Linked DNA regions of Homo sapiens: region 1 is linked to region 2. The links come from fine-mapping of genetic effects on gene expression. Tissue or cell type: whole blood. Region 2 holds a variant in brackets; the other region holds the start of a gene. All regions are shown on one strand. Distances are from middle to middle.

Region 1 (10,273 bases), 52 kb after region 2:
TAGAGCAGAGTCTGGAATATAAAAGCTTAATAAATATTGTTGAAAGAATTATCCCTTAGACAAAATACACAGTTTCGGACTTAAATATAAAGCTATAAACCCTGGGGGTATAAAATAAAAGAATAGCTGAGAGAAGCTGGGAGGGAGTGGAGAGGTACACAAAAAGAATAAAGAGGACTGCTGCTTTTCTGTATAAGTCCATCTCTACTGTGTGACTTTTAAATCATGTCCAGTGTGTTAATCTGATAATATTTAGAATTTTAAATCTATGCAACTATATTTGAAACATTTTTATTTTGTGGCAAGCTATGTAAGTAATGCCAATTACGATGACACTTACATTAGGAAGGCTATGGTTGCTATAACACCACAGGCATGGTATGAGTGGTTGAAATCTTTCATGGTGGGATAAATAACAGCTGCATCTATGATAATCCACCAGCCTGTAAAAAACTAAAACAAAGGTGATACCAATGAGAAATCATAGCAATTCTGTATCTCACTGGCTAAAAGCAAGGTATTTAAGTGAGGAGATCCCTTTTAATACATTTCAAAAATGTTCTAGCTTTTTCCCACATGTAATTTGCACATGGCCTAATAACTGATTAGGTACCCTTAAATCTGAGAGCAATTTATATTTATTAACATAACTTTTCTCTAAGCCTACTTCAATCATTATTTAATTTTTATCATAATAAAGCCTTGTAATCTAATTTGGTGAACTAGAAACCAGTTATCTCATGGAGGGGGAAAGGAAAAAAGTGACTCCAATTCCAACTGACAGAAGTGTCCTGTTGATATATGATAAACTTCCAGAGAAATATTCCCCAAAATCAAGAAAAAAGCATTCAAATTAATATGGAGAACAACTATTGTTCACAGAATTTTAGCTATCTTCTTGGTGTGAAATAACAGCTCTGAGGTTCTGCTTTTGATGAATTCCAGTGCAGTCTAAATATGGTTTCAGGTGTGATTTTAAATTTAATTTAAACACCAGATTACAATTTATCTAATTGAATTTGGCTCTAGATATTATCAAGGGCAAAGGTATAACAAAATAACGCCAAAACTTCAAAAACAGTTTTTATCATCTGAGCAGATATTTACAATAAAATTATATTAACCAAATTCTGACAAGTAGCCTAGAAGATTTTAAAAGTAACCCCCTTTCCTTTCCTATCCCCACACCAAACCCTGACTCAGTTAGCTCTGGCAACTGACATCTTCTGGCAATTATTTTAAAGTAACAATTTTAGGCTAGTCAAATTACTTTTATCAGGTTACAGACAGATCCATACTCGATTAATAACATTTTTAATGGCTAGCATGAGTACATATGCCTTTCTTTTTACCCTCAGCTCAATGTATTTAAGATATTTTCTTCATAGACTAAAAACTCAAAGCTTTTTGGCCAGGTGCAATAGCCTGTAATCTCAGGACCTTGGGAGGCCAAGGCCAGTGAATCACTTGAGCCCAGGAGTAGGAGACCAGCCTGGGCAACATGGAGAGACCTCATCTCTACAAAAAAAACAAACAAAAAAAAAAACAAAAATTAGCCCGGTGTGGTGGCCTTCATCCGTGGTCCAGGCTACTCCGGAGGCTGAGGTGGGAGGATCACCTGAGCCCGGGAGGTCGAGGTTGCAATGAGCAGTGATTTCACCACTGTACTCCAGCCTGGGAGACAGAGTGAGACCCTGTCTCGAAAATAAATAAATCTTAAAGCTTAAGAAAAAATGGCTTGGTGCGGTGGCTCATGCCTGTAATCCCAACACTTTGGGAGGCCGAGGCAGACAGATCATCTGAGGTCGGGAGTTCAAGACCAGCTTGACCAACATGGAGAAACCCCGTCTCTACTAAAACAAGAGCAAGGCCAGGCGCGGTGGCTCACACCTGTAATTCCAGCACTTTGCAAGGCCGAGGCAGGCGGATCACGAGGTCAGGAGATCGAGACCACGGCGAAACCCCGTCTCTACTAAAATACAAAAAAATTAGCCGGGCGCAGTGGCGGGCGCCTGTAGTCCCAGCTACTCGGGAGGCTGAAGCAGGAGAATGGCGTGAACCCCGGGAAGCGGAGCTTGCAGTGAGCTGAGATTGCGCCACTGCACGCCAGCCTGGGCGACAGACTGAGACTCCGTCTCAAAAAAAACCAAAAAAAACAAAAACAACAACAACAAAAAAACAAGAGCAAAACTCTATCTCAAAAAATAAAAATAAAAAATTACTCTTTAGAGCCTACGACACCATATGATCATAAAAAACTAATAGCAGATCCCTTGAGGGATCTGAAGTGTAAATAAGAATTTTATTCTGTAAATTACTTCCACACAATGTATTTTAATGAGTTTCCTTTTTGTTTTTGCTTTTTAAAAAAAAATTTTAAGGGGCCATGCTAATCTTCTCTGTATTATTCCAATCTTAGTGTATGTGTTGCCAAAGCGAGCACTTTTTTTTCCCTGAGACTGAGAAGAAAGTTAACTGGATTATGGAGAAATGCAATCACATCTATTGACTGGTTTTGACCTGACTGCGTCTTAAACACTTCCTTGTACCTTAATATACTCATTAAAAGGAGATATAATCCATATAATGAACAAATGTTTTATTATGCCATTTTTACCATGCAGTTAAAACAACCCAACCACTTGTTAATCAAATTTTAAACCATAAACTCTTAAAGTGGAACTAATAACTCTCCACAAACAACAAAATATCAACATGGTCAAAGTGGTCAAAGATAAAATAAATAGTACATATTTTAAAACATCCTGCAGAATTCAAAACCCATAAACACAAACGCACCAAAAAATAAGGCCCAAATAATCAATGACACTTACTAGTACACCAGCAGCAATGGAAGCAATAGTATTGCGCTTTTCCCCCCAGTCAATGCATTCTGAGCATCTCAAGCCCTCTAGAAATCCAGACATTTTTTTCAGGTCACTTAAAAACAAACAAACAAACAATTAAATAAGTACTTCCATTTACTTGCTTCAAGCCCGAAAAATAATTAATAGCTCAGGAATAATTAGATAAAAGTGAAATTACAAATGCTTTATTTTGGTTCCACATACTTCTTCAGAATATTTGATTTAGTTTTTGATGAATTTCCACATTATAACTTTGGAAAGTAATATCTGGATTCATTTAGTATCTTTTTTAATGTAAAAAATGGTTTGGGGGCCGGGCGTGGTGGTTCATGCCCGTAATCCTACCAATTTGGGAGGCTGAGGTGGGTGGGTCACCTGAGGTCAGGAGTTTGAGACCAGCCTGGCCAACATGGCAAACCCCATCTCTACTAAAAATACAAAAATTAGCCGGGGGTGGTGGCGCATGTCTGTAATCGCAGCTACTTGGGAGGCTGAGGCAGGAGAATCGCTTGAACCTGGGAGTCGAAAGTTGCAGTGAGCCGAGATCGTGCCACTGCACTCCAGCCTGGGCGACAGAGCAAGACTCTGTCTCAAAAATAATAATAAATAAATAGAAATAAATGGTTTGGATATATTTAAGCAGTATTAACAAAGGTGGGTCTCCAAATATTGAAAAAATTTTAACTACTGGTTGACCTCCTCCTGAAAATCTGTCACATCCTATTATTTCTAAGTAGGTATTAAATTAGTTTAGGTGGTACTTTTAATACCAAGTATATGATTACTAATCCACAGGAGCTCTTTTGTATCATTTTGATTCCAAACTTATTAAATGAATTTGATATTTACAGTCCAGGAGCACTAACATTAGTAGAGAGACAAGTGATAAACTTTGGCTCTGAGTGGAATTACAGATTCAAATGAAAAATATTTCTCTAATTTACATATTTTATCACAGAACGTGTGTTTCTTCACACCTAAATCAAGAAATTAAACACTGCACTGCAGTTCTTACCTCTACCCACATCATTTCCTTTCACTTCATTCATTATTTTTCTTTCTGCAAGCCTGCCTTTTGGTGTCATTTCTATATAAAGAACATCCACTTTAATATCCCTATCTCTGATCCTAACGGGTGTTTCCAGCCAAAAGCAAGCACAGAATCGTGGTTAATAGTAATTCAGATTACAAAAATCCAACTGCTATTTAAATATAGCCGACCCAAGCTGTCTTTACAAATTATATAAAACATTCCTGTAAGCCGAGCAGTAGAGACCTGAGATACAGCCATGTTATCTCTATTTCAGAGTATGAAAAAGCCTGAAATACATATAACTTGCGAATAACAACACCCAAACTCCTACAGCGAACTTGACTTCCTTAAGATACTTTGTAGCCAGCAATTATGGTTGTCCAAAAATATGACACCCTACAATAGAGCAACGTCTCCCATTTTTAACTTCTCTTTTAAAAATTAAATATTAAAATATATGATTACAGCCAATGCTAAGATGCCTTTGGGACAAGTTCAATTTAGGAAATTCACTCATTTGATTCTTCCCCGGGAAGAACTGCAATTCAATAAGTGTTATTTTCGGTTCATCCCAATGGCCCCACCCCGAATCCATTTTTCTTTGCACGACGACTGGTACGCTCAAGCCAGACCCCGCCCTCCAAACTCTGGGACTTTTAGGTCTCGAGGGACGCCGCTGGAAGATGGGGGAGCCACCTTTAGCCGGGGCACCCCTCGCTGAGGGAGCTGGCCGGGTCACGCTCCTTTCTCGGGGCTTCGGCTTGTCCAGCTGTGAAGTGGGGGATCGGGGGATTTTCCAGGGATCCTGGGGTGTCCCGGGGGAGGGCGCGGTCCCCTCTCCGTCTTGGCGGGGTCTGGACGCCGTCGCCTTCTCCTGGCGCCGCCGGACCCAGGAGAGGAGAGGTCCGCGGCGGCTCAGCCCGGGTCTGCGGCTTCCGGGAGGGTGGCGGCAACGAGCCTGTGCTGTGGGCACCAGCCCGTCAGACGGCCCCGGCTCCGAGGCCTCTCCAGCCTGCGGCCGCTACTCTCTTACCCCCACTCCCCGCCCGACACTTACGTCCAGCCCCGTCGTGCAGTGGTTCCGGAGCCCGGTGTCGCGCCGCGCCGGCCCGCCTCACTCCCCCGATTTTAGCCAAGAAAACAAAACGGCCACAGCCTCCAGACACCCGGATGCAGCAGTACCATCCACCCGGCTCAGTCGCGCATGCGGACACGGGGCGGAGGGCGGGGCGCCGGGTCCGGAGGGAGCCACGCCCACCACAACAACGCGTCTGCGCATGCCCGGGCGCTGGGTTCAGGGGCTTTCCGCCGCTCTGGGTTCACAGCTGGACGTCGGGAGTGCTAGTTTGGAGTACGCCATTTGAGAGTAGGCGTGAGAAGTTGCTCTGTGTGCTGAGCGTTCTAAAGGAAGGCGTCCGTTGGCCTTCGTACCCGTCTTGAGTGAGGTGACGAGTGTTTTCTAGTACTGGGGTCGGCCGCGCAGCCCTCTCAGGGGTGGGTGGCAGGAAGAGTGCCGGGTCCCGCGTGGTGCAAAAGGTGGGTTCAGGTTTGCGGCCACACAGCGCTACTCAGGACTTTTTAGTCTTGTTTATTTTCTCCGTGCCTGTTCCCGCCCCCCGCAGCTCCACCTCTGGGAGAGGGGCGGGTTCAGCTCCAGGAGGCGGGGACTTCCCGGCTTGGCGTGGCTGGGGTGTCCCGTGGACCCCAGTCTCGGCGCGGTGACCCACTTATGGGACTTGGCCTTTCTTTGTTGTTTGTTTAAGGCAGGGTTTCTCAGCCTGGGCACTACTGAGGTTTTGGGCCGGCTAATTCTGTCTGGGTTGGGGAGGGTGCTGTCCCGTGCTTCGCAGGTTGTGTAGCTGCATCCCCCGCCTCTACCCAGTGGATGCAAGTAGCAGCCCCAGTGAACCAAAAATGCCCCCAGACTTTGCCAAATATCCCCTCCCGGGGAAGATCGCCTCGCTTGAGAACCACTGTTGGAGGAGAGCCTGGGTTTTCGGGAGGTAACCGTTTACAAAGGGGAGAACGGTAAGAAGCCGGAAGCAACGATGACTTAGCTACGTGAAAGACTTGCGGCCGGGCTCGCCCCTCTTCTAGAAGCCGTCAGTTTGGGTCTCGCGTCTGGAATCACCGTCAAGGAGTCAGATCCAGCCCCGGAGAGGGAGCAGGGTCGAGGTCTCCTTGCAGAAGGCGCCACCGCAGGAAGCACAGGCGCAACGTGCGGTCTCCCTAGCGGAGGCGCTCGCGATCCTGCAGCCGCCGGTCCGGGAGGTGCTCGGTAGCCCTCCTTGGTGCCTGTCCGGTAGCTGGTCACTCTCGGGGGAAGGTCGTGTGCAGAAGGGCACATGCGATCACACAGAGACGGCGTTGCTGCGGCTTTGACCCGATGGTGCACCCGAAAGAACACAGAGGGTGAAGGGAGAGATCCAGGAAGTGGTCGCGGAGCAGAACCCCCCTTCACTTCAGTTAAAAAGGTGGGTCAATTGTCGTTAAGAGATACGCACAGGTTCATCTGATTGACATGTACGGCGGCAGTATATGAGTGGGATGGGAACCAAGGTGACTGTTGTTTCCTTTGATGGATGAAACTTTCATCCCTTTGGGTTTTTTTGTTTGTTTTTGGCGGTGCATTAGCCGATTAGTAGATAAAACTGCATGACAATCTATAGCCTGTTTTTAAATGGACACGTTCTTACCACTCAGGAGGTTTATCGTGATTGTTTAATGTCTCAGGGTGGAGGAATCTAGTGCAGGCAGTTCTTAATGAAACCTTTTAAATTCCCGTTAGTGACTTAACATTAGTTTACCAGCTCTGAGCAGCTTTAAACAAACATCCTCTTTTAATAGCTAATGAGTGCGGGAGAAAAGATACTAACTCCTTTCTCTTTGCGTTTTTTGCCCCTACCCTTTTTTCTCTTTTCTGGCCTTAACATGATTGTCAAATATTTATAAATATGAGTGAGCATCTTTATATTACTCTTACTAATAAGATACATGCTTAATTTGTCATTCTTTACCTTTTTGGGACTTAATGAATGTTTGTCTTTTGTAGATAAAATGGAGCTGCTAGAAATAGCAAAAGCCAGCCACCCATATTAACCCCTCCATTTTCCCTATAATTAATGGCTTTCATTATTGTGGTATATTTGTTACAATTACTGGACTAATATGATACATTATTATTAACTGACATCCACATTTTATTCAGATTTCTTTAGTTTTTTGCCTAATGTCTTTTTCTGTTCCAGGATCCCCTCCAGAATACCACATTACAGTTAATTGTTATGTCTCCTTAGTCTCCCCTTGGCTGTGTCAGTTTCACATACTTTCTTTGTTTTTGATGATATAGATGTGAAGAGTACTAGCCAGGAATATTATAGGTATTGGGTTTTTTAAATGTATGTGTCATTTCATGATTAAAAATCAGTTGCGGCCAGGTGTGGTGGCTCAGCACTTTGGGAGGCTAAGGTGGGAGGATTGCTTGAGGCCAGGAGTTCAAGACCAGCCTGGCCAATGTGGCAAAATCCCATCTCTGCTAAAAATACAAAAAATATAGCTGGGCACGGTGGCACACACCTGTAATCCCAACTACTCGGGAGGCTGAAGCACAAGGATTGTTTGAACCTGGGAGGTGGAGGTTGTAGTGAGCCAAGATTGTGCCACTGCATTCTAGTCTAGGCAACAGGTGAGACTCTGTCTCAAAAAAAAAAAAACAAGTGTGGATTACAGTATCTGTTGGGCCTACTATCGTAAAACACATACACATGCATGTGCACACACAAACCTCCAGGCTATCACTTCAGTGCCAGCCAGCAGCATTTCTTACTCTAACCACTGCAACTGTGTCCCTGCTTCATCTTGGGGCTTCATTCTCATATATTTTCTTCACACAGCAGCCACAGAGAAGCTTTTACAATGTAAACCAGAGTCTATTACTTCTGTTCTCCAACTACTTCAGTGGCTAAATTGGTACCAGTAGAGTGGGGTGCTGCCGTAGATACTCAAAAATGGGTATGTGACTTTGGAACTGGGTAACAGGCAGGGTTTGGAACAGTTTGGAGGGCTCAGAAGAAGACAGGCAAATGTGGGAAAGTTTGGAACTTCCTAGAGACTTGTTGAATGGCTTTGCCCAAAATGCTGATAGCACTGTGGACAATAAAGTCCATAGGCTGAGGTGGTCTCAGACGGAAATGAGGAACTTGTTGGGAACTGGAGCAAAGGGGACTCTTGTTATGTTTTAGCAAAGATACTGGCGGCATTTTGCCCCTGCACGAGATATTTGTAGAACTTTGAACTTCAGAGAGATGATTTAGAGTATCTGGCAGGAGAAATTTCTAAGCAGCAAAGCATTCAAGAGGTGACTTGGGTGCTGTTAAAGACATTCAGTTTTATAAGGGAAGCAGAGCATAAAAGTTCGGAAAATTTGCAGCCTGACAATGTGATAGAAAAGAAAAATTCCCATTTTCTGAGGAGAAATTCAAGCTGGCTGCAGAAATTTGCATGAGTAACAGGAGCCAAATGCTAATTCCCAAGACAATGGGGAAAATGTCTCCAGGGCATGTCAGAGGTCTTTATGGCAACCCCTCCCATCACAGGTCCAGAGATATCAGGAAAAAATGGTTTTGTTGGCCAGGCCCGGGGTCCTCATGCTGTGTGCAGCCTAGGGACTTGGTGCCCTGCATCCCAGCCACTCCCAACCATGACTGACAGGAGGCAAGGTAGAGCTTGGGCTGTAGCTTCGGGGAGTGCAAGCCCCAAGCCTTGACAGCTTCCATGTGGTGTTGAGACTGCGAGTGCACAGAAGTCAAGAACTGGGGTTTGGAAACCTTCGCCTAGATTAAAGAGGATGTGCGGAAATGCCTGGATGCCCAGGCAGAAGTTTGCTGCAGGGGCAGGGCCCTCATGGAGATCCTCTGCCAGGGCAGTGCAGAAGGGAAATGTGGGGTCAGAGACCCCACACACAGTCCCTACTGGGGCACCACCTAGTGGAGCTGTGAGAAGAGGTCCTCCAGACCCCAGAATGGTAGATCCACCGACAGCTTGCACCGTGTACCTGGAAAAGTTGCAGACACTCAATGCCAGCCCATGAAAGCAGCTGAGAGGGAGGCTGTACCCTGCAAAGGTACAGGGGCAGAGCTGCCCAAGACCATGGGAACCCACCCCTTCCATCTGCGTGACCTGGATGTGAGATGTGGAGTCAAGAGGAGATCATTTTGGAGCTTTAAGATTTGACTGCCCCACTGGATTTTGGACTCTCATGGGCCTGTAGCCTCTTTGTTTTGACCAATTTATCCCATTTGGAATGGCTGTATTTACCCAATGCCTGTACCCCCATTGTATCTAGGAAGTAATTAACTTGCTTTGGATTTTATAGGCTCATAGATGGAAAGGACTTGCCTTGTCTCAGATGAGACATTAGACTGTGGACTTTTGAGTTAATGCTGAAATCATTTAAGACTTTGAGGGACTGTTGGGATGGTGTGATTGGTTTTGAAATGTGAGGACATGAAATTTGGGAGGGGCCATGGGTGGAATGATAGGGTTTGGTTGTGTCCCCACCCAAATCTCATCCTGAATTCCCATGCGTTGTGGGAGGGACCCAGTGGGAGGTAACTGAATCATGGGGACAGGTCTTACCCGTGCTGTTCTCGTGATAGTGATAAGTCTAACAGGATCTGATGGCTCTATAAGGGGGAGTTTCTCTGCACAAGCTGTCTTTGTCTTTGCCTGCCATCCACGTAAGACGTGACTTGCTCCTCATTGCCTTTCGCCATGATTGTGAGGCCTCCCCAGCCATGTGGAACTGTAAGTCCATTAAACCTCTCTTTCTTTTGTAAATTGCCTAGTCTGGGGTTTGTGAACAGACTAATACAATGGCTTTTCACCTTGCAGAATAAAATCCTACGAGATCCTCATGCTCTAGCTCCTGGCCAGGCCACCTCCTCAGGAGTTAGATCACTTATCCGTCTCTCCCTGGCCCACCCTTCTCTGTCACATGGCTTCTTTGCTGACCGTGATACACACCACACTTGTCTTCTCTACCTGGAAGTTGTATTCCCCATACCCACATGGCTCACTTCTTCACTTCATTCAAGTCTCTGCTCAGATATTAACCTCTTCAGAGAGCCCTTCCTTCACACACTGTCTTGCATAGCAGCCTCTCCTACAAGTTGTCTTCTTTCTCCTTAACTTTTGTGATGGTTAATTTTAGGTGTCAGCTTGACTGGATTAAAGAATACCTAGAGAACTGGAAAGGCATTATTTGTTAGTGTGTCTGTGAGGGTATTTCCAGAAGAGATTGATATATGACTGAATGGGCTAAGAGGGAACCATCCGCCCTCAACGTGCAGTTGGCTTGGAACAAAAACGGAAG
Region 2 (8,000 bases):
AATAAATAAATAAATAAAAATAAAAAGCAGACAGACTTTTTAGTTGGCTTTAGAATTGTTAGACACCCTCTGCAGACAAGGCACCCCGATTGCTTGCACCCAGGGTGGACTACTCCCTCCATCCTGCCCTTGTTACACCCTGGCTGGGGGTCAGCATTTCAGGCAGCTGAATGACCCAAAGTGGGAACACGCTAGTGGGTTTGAGGATGAGCAAGTGGAGGAGTGCAATAGGAGGTGACGCCCGAGAGGTCAGGTGAGAGTGGATCCTGCAGGGTCGTGGCAAGAACCTGGACCTTGACTTTGAGTGACATGGGAGCCGCTGGAGGCTTCTGAGCAGAGGAGTAACATGATCTGACTTGCATTTTATTTTATTTATTTATTTGACGCAGTCTCACTCTGTCGCCGAAGCTGGAGTGCAGTGGCGCCATCTCAGCTCACTACAGCCTCTGCCTCCCAGGTTCCAGTGAATCTCCTGCCTCAGCCTCCCAGGTAGATGGGATTACAAGCAAGCATCACCACGCCTGGCTAATTTTTGTATTTTTAGTAGAGACAGGGTTTTGCCATGTTGGCCAGGCTGGTATCGAACTCCTGACCTCAGGTGATCCACCCACCTCAGCCTCCCAAAGTGCTGAGATTACAGGCTTGAGCCACCACGCCCGGCCTGACTTGCATTTTAACAGGGTCACTCTGTCTGCTGTGTGGAGAACAGTCCGCAGGAAGACAAGGGTGGAAATGGGGAGACCAGTTAGGAGGTTACTGTAACAATTTGGGGTAGCGGTGATGGTGGCTTAAACCAAGATGGGGTCAGTGGGAAATGGTGCTAAAAATCCTGCCAATTCTGGGTATTTTTAGAAAGCACAGCTGACAGCTTTCTCCAGTAGCCCACTAAATAAGTTATGAAGCATTACTAAAATGTGATAGTCATGATGCAAAATTAGAATATATCTAGAATCTCCCGAAGACCTTAGTTTGGTATTACAAGAAGTCTGGTTGCTTCATGTTGCAAAATTTATATCACTCATCACTCCTGCAGAGTTAAAATTCCGCTGAGAAGTAGGAATCAGTGAAGTGCGTGTCCATGTGGGTTTTTGCCACACCTAAGTGAACCTTGGTCAAAAGCATATAAGAGCTACTGATAGGCCGGGCGTGGTGGCTCATGCCTGTAATCTCAGCACTTTGGGAGGGAAGGATCTCTTGAGCCCAGGAGTTCGAGACCAGCCTGAGCAACATAGTGAGATTCCATCTTTACACAAAATTTAAAAATTGGCCAGGCATGGTTGTGCACTCCTGTAATCCCAGCTACTTAGGAGGCTGAGGTGGGAGGATTGCTTGAGCCTGGGAGTTGGAGACTACAGTGAGCTGTGGCCACACCACTGCACTCCAGCTTGAGCAATGGAGCAAGACTCTGTCTCAAAAAAAAAAAAAAAAAAAAAAAAAAGAGGCCGGGCACAGTGGCTCATGCCTGTAATCCCAGCACTTTGGGAGGCCGAGGCGGGTGGATCGCCTGAGGTCAGGAGTTTGAGACCAGCCTGGCAAACACGGTGAAACCCCATCTCTACTAAAAATACAAAATTAGCCCAGCGTAGTGGCGCATGCCTGTAATCCCAGCTACTAGGGAAGCTGAGGCAGGAGAATCGCGTGAACCTGGGAGGCAAATGTTCCAGTGAGCCGAGATCGTGCCATTGCACTCCAGCCTGGGCAAAGCCTGCTGGGTTGGGCTGGGTAAGCTCTGAACACCAGTCTCGTGGCTTCAAGTCACACCTCCTAAGTGAAGCTCTGAACTTTCTCCAAGGACCATCAGGGCTTTCCCCTGGGCAGAGGATGCCGACACTCACTGCTCTTACTGGGTTTTATTGCAGACAGACTACCACATGAACCTGAGGCACTTCTACGTGTTCGCAGCCTATTTTGGGCTGACTGTGGCCTGGTGCCTGCCAAAGCCTCTACCCAAGGGAACGGAGGATAATGATCAGAGAGCAACGATACCCAGTTTGTCTGCCATGCTGGGTAAGGACAAGGTGGGGTGAGTGGTCTCATACTTGGGCTGAGCAGAATGGCTCAGAAAAGGCTCTGGCTGAAAAAATCTCCCTCCTTTACCAACTTCCCCTGGGTGTCTGAAGCCCTTCCATCATGATTCACTTCTTTGAGTAGTGTTTGCTAAATTCATACCTTTGAATTAAGCACTTCCTTTTAGGGACCTCTCTTCATTAATATCCACTAGAAAGGAGAGACTCATTATGTGTGAGTTTCAATAAGTTTATCCAATCCCTTTGTTTTCAACTGAAAGGAGGGAAACGGACAAGTGAAGAAGGTAGGGCCCAGGAGTGAAGGAACAAGGGTGGGAATAGTAATAATGTTGTACTTTGAAAATCTACTGGGAAAATGATGAACTTAGACTGCTGGGAGAGGCTAATAGAAAATCGGGCAGTGAGCTTGATAGTAGGCAAAGGACTATCAGGCCACGGGGTCAAGTTAAAGCAGCACATTCATTAAAAAAAAAAAAATAAGCGTTTGGGCCAGGCGTGGTGGCTCAAGCCTGTAATCCCAGCACTTTGGGAGGCCAAGGTGGGTGGATCACCTGAGGTCAGGAGTTCGAGACCAGCCTGGCCAACAGGGCGAAACCCCATCTCTACTAAAAATACAAACAAATCAGCTGGGCATGGTGGTGCACGCCTGTAATCCCAGCTACTTGGGAGGCTGAGGCAGGAGAATCTTTTGAATCCAGGTGGTGGAGGTTGCAGTGAGCCAAGATCGCGCCACTGCACTCCAGCCTGGGCAACAGAGCAAGAGTCCATCTCAATTAAAAAGAAAAAAAAATTAAAATAAGCATTTGACCATCACAGAGCAGGTTCAGGAGGCCTGGGGTATGCAGATTTCAACCCTCTTGGCCTTTGTTTCCTTGTCTGTAAAATGTGGTTAGCTGGTATCAGCTTGAGAGCTCGGAGGGGAGACGTGACTTCCCCATCTAACTCTAAGTGACAAGGCTGAGACTCTCCAGCCCTAGGATTCTCATCCAAAACCCCTCGAGGCTCAGACCTTTGGAGCAGGAGTGTGATTCTGGCCAACCACCCTCTCTGGCCCCCAGGCGCCCTCTTCTTGTGGATGTTCTGGCCAAGTGTCAACTCT[G/C]CTCTGCTGAGAAGTCCAATCCAAAGGAAGAATGCCATGTTCAACACCTACTATGCTCTAGCAGTCAGTGTGGTGACAGCCATCTCAGGGTCATCCTTGGCTCACCCCCAAAGGAAGATCAGCATGGTGAGCAGGGCGCTGCCCTTGGGCAGCACTTGGGTCTAACAGGACTAGCACACATATTTATGCCCCTCCCCACCCCAGGGCCAGCGTGGGTTGGGAGAGGGCATGCCGGGTGGTGGAGCTGTGCCTGCCTCTACAGTGGAGCTCTAGGAAGAATGCTGGGTGGTCACAGGGGGCCTGGGACTCAGGAGACTGTCCAGTGATCAAAGGCTTTCTGGGGGGAGTGATTAAATCCATCCATGCTAACATGAAACAGACCTGAGTTTGAACCCCGTTTCTGCTAGTTGCTCAAGTCAGTCACCATGAGCGAGAGTCAGCAGCAACAGACTAGACTAGAATTAGCCAGCCTCTCTCTTCCCCCCAACAAATTTCAAGAATGGAACCATCAGAATCAGAAGTAGAGAAGTATGTGACACTAGCCATGTGGCTCTGGTCAAGCCACTTCAACGTTTTGAGTCTCAGTGGCCTCATCTGTAAAGTGAGAATTAAGAGATGGTGCATGTAAAGTGCTTAACGGGGAGTAAATGGTAGGCAAACATTAGCTGCTGCTATTAGTACAGAGAGACAATGGTGTGTGTGAGTCTTGTGGGCAGAGATGGGTGAGAGGGGAGACAAAACAAGTTCTCATGATGATGGGGGCAGGGGGTCCAGCTGGTGGTGTCGGAGGGAAGTCTGGACAGACCAGTGGTGGGGCTCGGGTGGGAGGCACTGGGGGGGCTGGAGTGGAAAGAATGTGGCCACAGATGACAGCTTCACAGCAGAATTCAGTGCTAAGAGGAAGTGAGTGGCCATGAGTTCCATGGTGACAGAAAGTCTAAGACACCTAGCAAGGCAGGAGTGGGTGTCAGCTCAGGGAAGCTCAGAGGCTAAACCTAGGTGAGAGCTGAGGGTGTCAGATAAGAGCAAGGCAAGGCTCCGGTTCTGGAGTAGTGAAGGACATAGCAGAGCTATAACCCAGGAACAAGGCCCAGCTTATTGGAACTGGGACCAGTCACACAGGGTGGCACAGGCACCAAGTAGCCAATAATAATAATAAAAACAATAACAATGATTTATGTCTATTGGGCATTTATTCATGTTCTATGCCAGACACTGGACTAAGAGCTTTATATGTGGAAACTCATTTAATCCTTACAATAACCTTATGAAGAAGGTACATCCAAAACCCCATTCTTCTAGGCCAGGTGCAGTGGCTCACACCTGTAATCCCAATATTTTGGAAAGCTGAGGCAAGAGGATTGGTTGAGGCCAGGAGTTCAAGACCAGCCCAGGCAACATAGCAAGACCCTGTCTCTAAAAAATAAAACAAAAACCCATTCTTCCCGCTGTCCAGGGACACACCACTAATGAGTGTGATGGGTGCCTAGGATGCTGAGCACCTGGACTTCCCAGCTCATTCCCTAAATGCTGCACAATCAGGGTAACTGTGCCCTGAGCCTAAGAGGCAGTAGTGAGCTGGCCCACCGTGTCCACTGATGAAGGACACGTAGCCCCAACACAGGGGAGAGGTGGTTTCAGGATCAGCAAAGCAGGGAGGATGTTACAGGGTTGCCTTGTTCCCAGCGTGCTGGTCACTTGCAGCAAGATGGTGTTCTCTCTCTACCTTGCTTCCTTTACCCACACGCTATTTCTTTGCAGACTTATGTGCACAGTGCGGTGTTGGCAGGAGGCGTGGCTGTGGGTACCTCGTGTCACCTGATCCCTTCTCCGTGGCTTGCCATGGTGCTGGGTCTTGTGGCTGGGCTGATCTCCATCGGGGGAGCCAAGTGCCTGCCGGTAAGAAACTAGACAACTAATGCTCTCTGCTTTGGCTGAAGGCCAGCAGGACGCTGGGACCTGATGGGCCACTGTGCAGTGCACAGCTGCATTAGGCAGGTGTTGGTGCATTCTCTTATTGGCTTCAACGCCTAGCGAGGGATCCATCCTGGCTCGGTGGCACATTTGTTAAGATGCTGGGGAGCAGGTGGCAGAACCCATTTGAGCTTGCTTGGGCACTGGGGAGAATTTGTTACCAGGCTACAGGGGTGTCACAGAACTCAAGGACAGGGACTGGAGTGTTGTGGGGAGCCCAGAAGCCCCTGTTTTACTTCTTTCTTTGCTTTTCCTGAATATCTGCTTTATTCTTACTCTATAGACCTGCTTCCTCCTCTTTCACCCCACATTGTGGGGTGTAGTCTTTTGCTTCAAGAAAGCAGCCTGGTGGATGGAATCTCTTGGCCCCAATCCCAAATTCTCTGGAGAAGGGGCTCTTTGGTTTAACTTGGATAATGTTGTCTTCAGCTGGGGGTGGGCACATCGTGCATATGTGGCTGCTGCCGGGGAACCACGTGGATGATGTGAGAGGAGCAGCACCCAGAAGAGGGAGTGCTGGGCTGATGGTCCAGGTCGTGTCCACTTCTGATTGTTTAATTCTTCTTCTAAGTGGATGGATCTTTCTCCAATACTCAGCAAATCCTGATCGTTCCAGAATACTTCATTATAGCCAATTGGTTATAATGTGCTTCTCTAAGAGAAATATTTAGGGACAACAAATCTTCATGGGTTTGAAGACTTGATGGAGGAAAAAGGAGTAGATTTTCGAAGGCTGGATTTGGATGAACAGGGGCTATTCAGGGAGTGCATTCCAACCTAAAATTAGGAAAAACTGGCTGGGCGCAGTGGCTCACGCGCTTTGGGAGGCCGAGGCGGGCAGATGGCCTGAGGTCAGGAGTTCAAGACCAGCCTGGCCAACATGGTGAAACCATCTCTACTAAAAGTACAAAAATTAGCCAGGCGTGGTGGCGGGCACCTGTCATCTTAGCTACTCAGGAGGCTGAGATGCGAGAATCACTTGAACCTGGGAGACAGAGCTTGCAGTGAGCCGAAATTGCGCCACTGCACTCCAGCCTGGGCGACAGAACAAGACTCTGTCTTAAAAAAAAAAAAGTGTTTTATATACAGAGTGGAATATTATTTAGCCATAAAAAGAATGAAATCCTGTCATTTGCAGCAACATGGATGGAACTGGAGGTCATTAAAAAATAAAATAAAATAAATAAGGAAAAACGTATCAATACTTCGATTGACCAAAACCAGGGCAAATCTGATTTTCATCTTTGCAAGGGGAACAAATTTCTTTTATCTCCTCTGGCTTTGAAACCCTGAAATGAAAGGAGGAAGGGCAGAAAAAAGAACACATAGCAAGTTACCATCAGGCTCAGCGCCCATCGCATTCCCTGAGCTTGTTTCCTTGACTTCATCACTGGCAGGACTATTCAAAAATGATTCCCTCATTCATTCATATATTCATTCATTCATCATTCCTTCATTCAACACATACGTTTTAACACTCATCTTGCTTTTCAAGCTATAGTTTAGTGAGCGAAATGGATACACAGAATACAGTGTGAGAACAGCTACAGGGCACATCTGAGCTAGCCTGGGATGGGTCCGGAAATGCTTCCTGGAGCAGAGGAAACGGTTGACAGCCAAGTGTTGACAGAGAAGTAGTATTAGCCAGGCAGAGACATGGGGAATGTATTCCAGGCAGAAGGCACAGTGTGTATGAAAGCTTATTGGTAAGAAGAGTGTGTGGCCCAACCAGGAAACAGACATTCTGAAGGCATAGGGTCCACCCAGGAGCATGGTGAACCCAGATCCCTGAAAGATGGGAGGTGCTCAGGCACACTTCCTGGGCTAGTTGAGGGGTCTGGATTTTTATTTACTTATTTTTTTATTTATTGAGACAGAGTCTCGTTCTGTCACCCAGGCTGGAGTGCAGTGGTGCAATCTCAGCTCACTGCAACCTCCACCTCCTGGGTTCAAGTGATTCTCCTACCTCAGCCTCCTGAGTAGCTGGGATTACAGGTGCCCACCACCATGCCTGGCTAATTTGTGTGTGTGTGTGTGTGTGTGTGTGTGTGTGTGTGTTTTGTTGTTGTTGTTGTTGTTGAGACGGTGTCTCGCTCTTTTGCCCAGGCTGGAGTGCAGTGGCGCCATCTTGGCTTACTGCAAGCTCTGCCTCCCGGGTTCACACCATTCTCCTGCCTCAGCCTCCTGAGTAGCTGGGACTACAGGCGCCCTCCACCACGCCCAGCTAATTTTTTGTGTTTTTAGTAGAGACGGGGTTTCGCCATGTTGGCCATGCTGGTCTTGAACTCTTGACTTCAGGTGATCCACCCACGTTGGCCTCCCAAAGTGCTGGGATTACAGGCATGAGCCACCGTGCCCGACCTGGATTTTTATTCTGAAGACTAATGGGGATCCTAAGGAAGGAACCAGCCTGACTGAATTTGCATATGTGTCCACATCTGCTGGCTCATGGCTGTGTGGGAGGCTGAGTGATGGGGAGGAAGGATTACTGAGTAGGGATCTAGAGGTGTGGCCTCATGCTTTCTTTCTAACCAGCTGTGTTGTCTTTGGGATGGTGCTTAAATTTGGGCTAGACCAGTGGGTCTTGGTCACCCCCCAGGGGACATCTGACAATGTCTGGAGGCGTTCTTGGTTGACACAGTGGGGTGAGGGCTGCTACTGGCAGCTCGTGGGGAGAGACCAGGAATGATGCTTAACATCCTACAGTGCACAGGGCAGCCCCCATCACAAGGAATTATCAGCTGAAATTGTGAATAGTGCCTACACTAGACCCTTGCTACTCATAGTGTGGTCCGTAGATGAGCAGCATTGGCATCACCTGGGACCTTGTTAGAAATGCTCTTAGACCCCACCCCACATCCACTAAAGCCAGCTCTTCATTTCAACAAACTCCCCATTGA

What was found. PIP is the estimated chance that this variant, and not a neighbour inherited with it, causes the effect.
Region 1: it holds the start of TMEM50A, and the variant in region 2 is fine-mapped to the expression of TMEM50A in whole blood (INTERVAL, PIP above 0.99).

The regions. Positions count from the first base shown.
Region 1 is chr1:25,333,141-25,343,413 of GRCh38, reverse strand. TMEM50A (transmembrane protein 50A) reads right to left here and starts at 5,080. Exons shown (of 7, transcript NM_014313.4): 1 at 4,958-5,080; 2 at 2,835-2,940; 3 at 341-453. The coding sequence starts at 2,927. It also overlaps a transcript of RSRP1 not described here and the pseudogene LOC124904723. RefSeq lists silencers at 5,131-5,250, 6,242-6,536 and an enhancer at 8,126-8,656.
Region 2 is chr1:25,386,001-25,394,000 of GRCh38, reverse strand. RHCE (Rh blood group CcEe antigens) reads left to right here. Exons shown (of 10, transcript NM_020485.8): 4 at 1,860-2,007; 5 at 3,086-3,252; 6 at 4,888-5,025. Among named protein-coding and RNA genes, the nearest start is that of RHCE, 31 kb to the left of the region's middle. The variant G/C (reference allele first, on the strand shown) is at 3,127.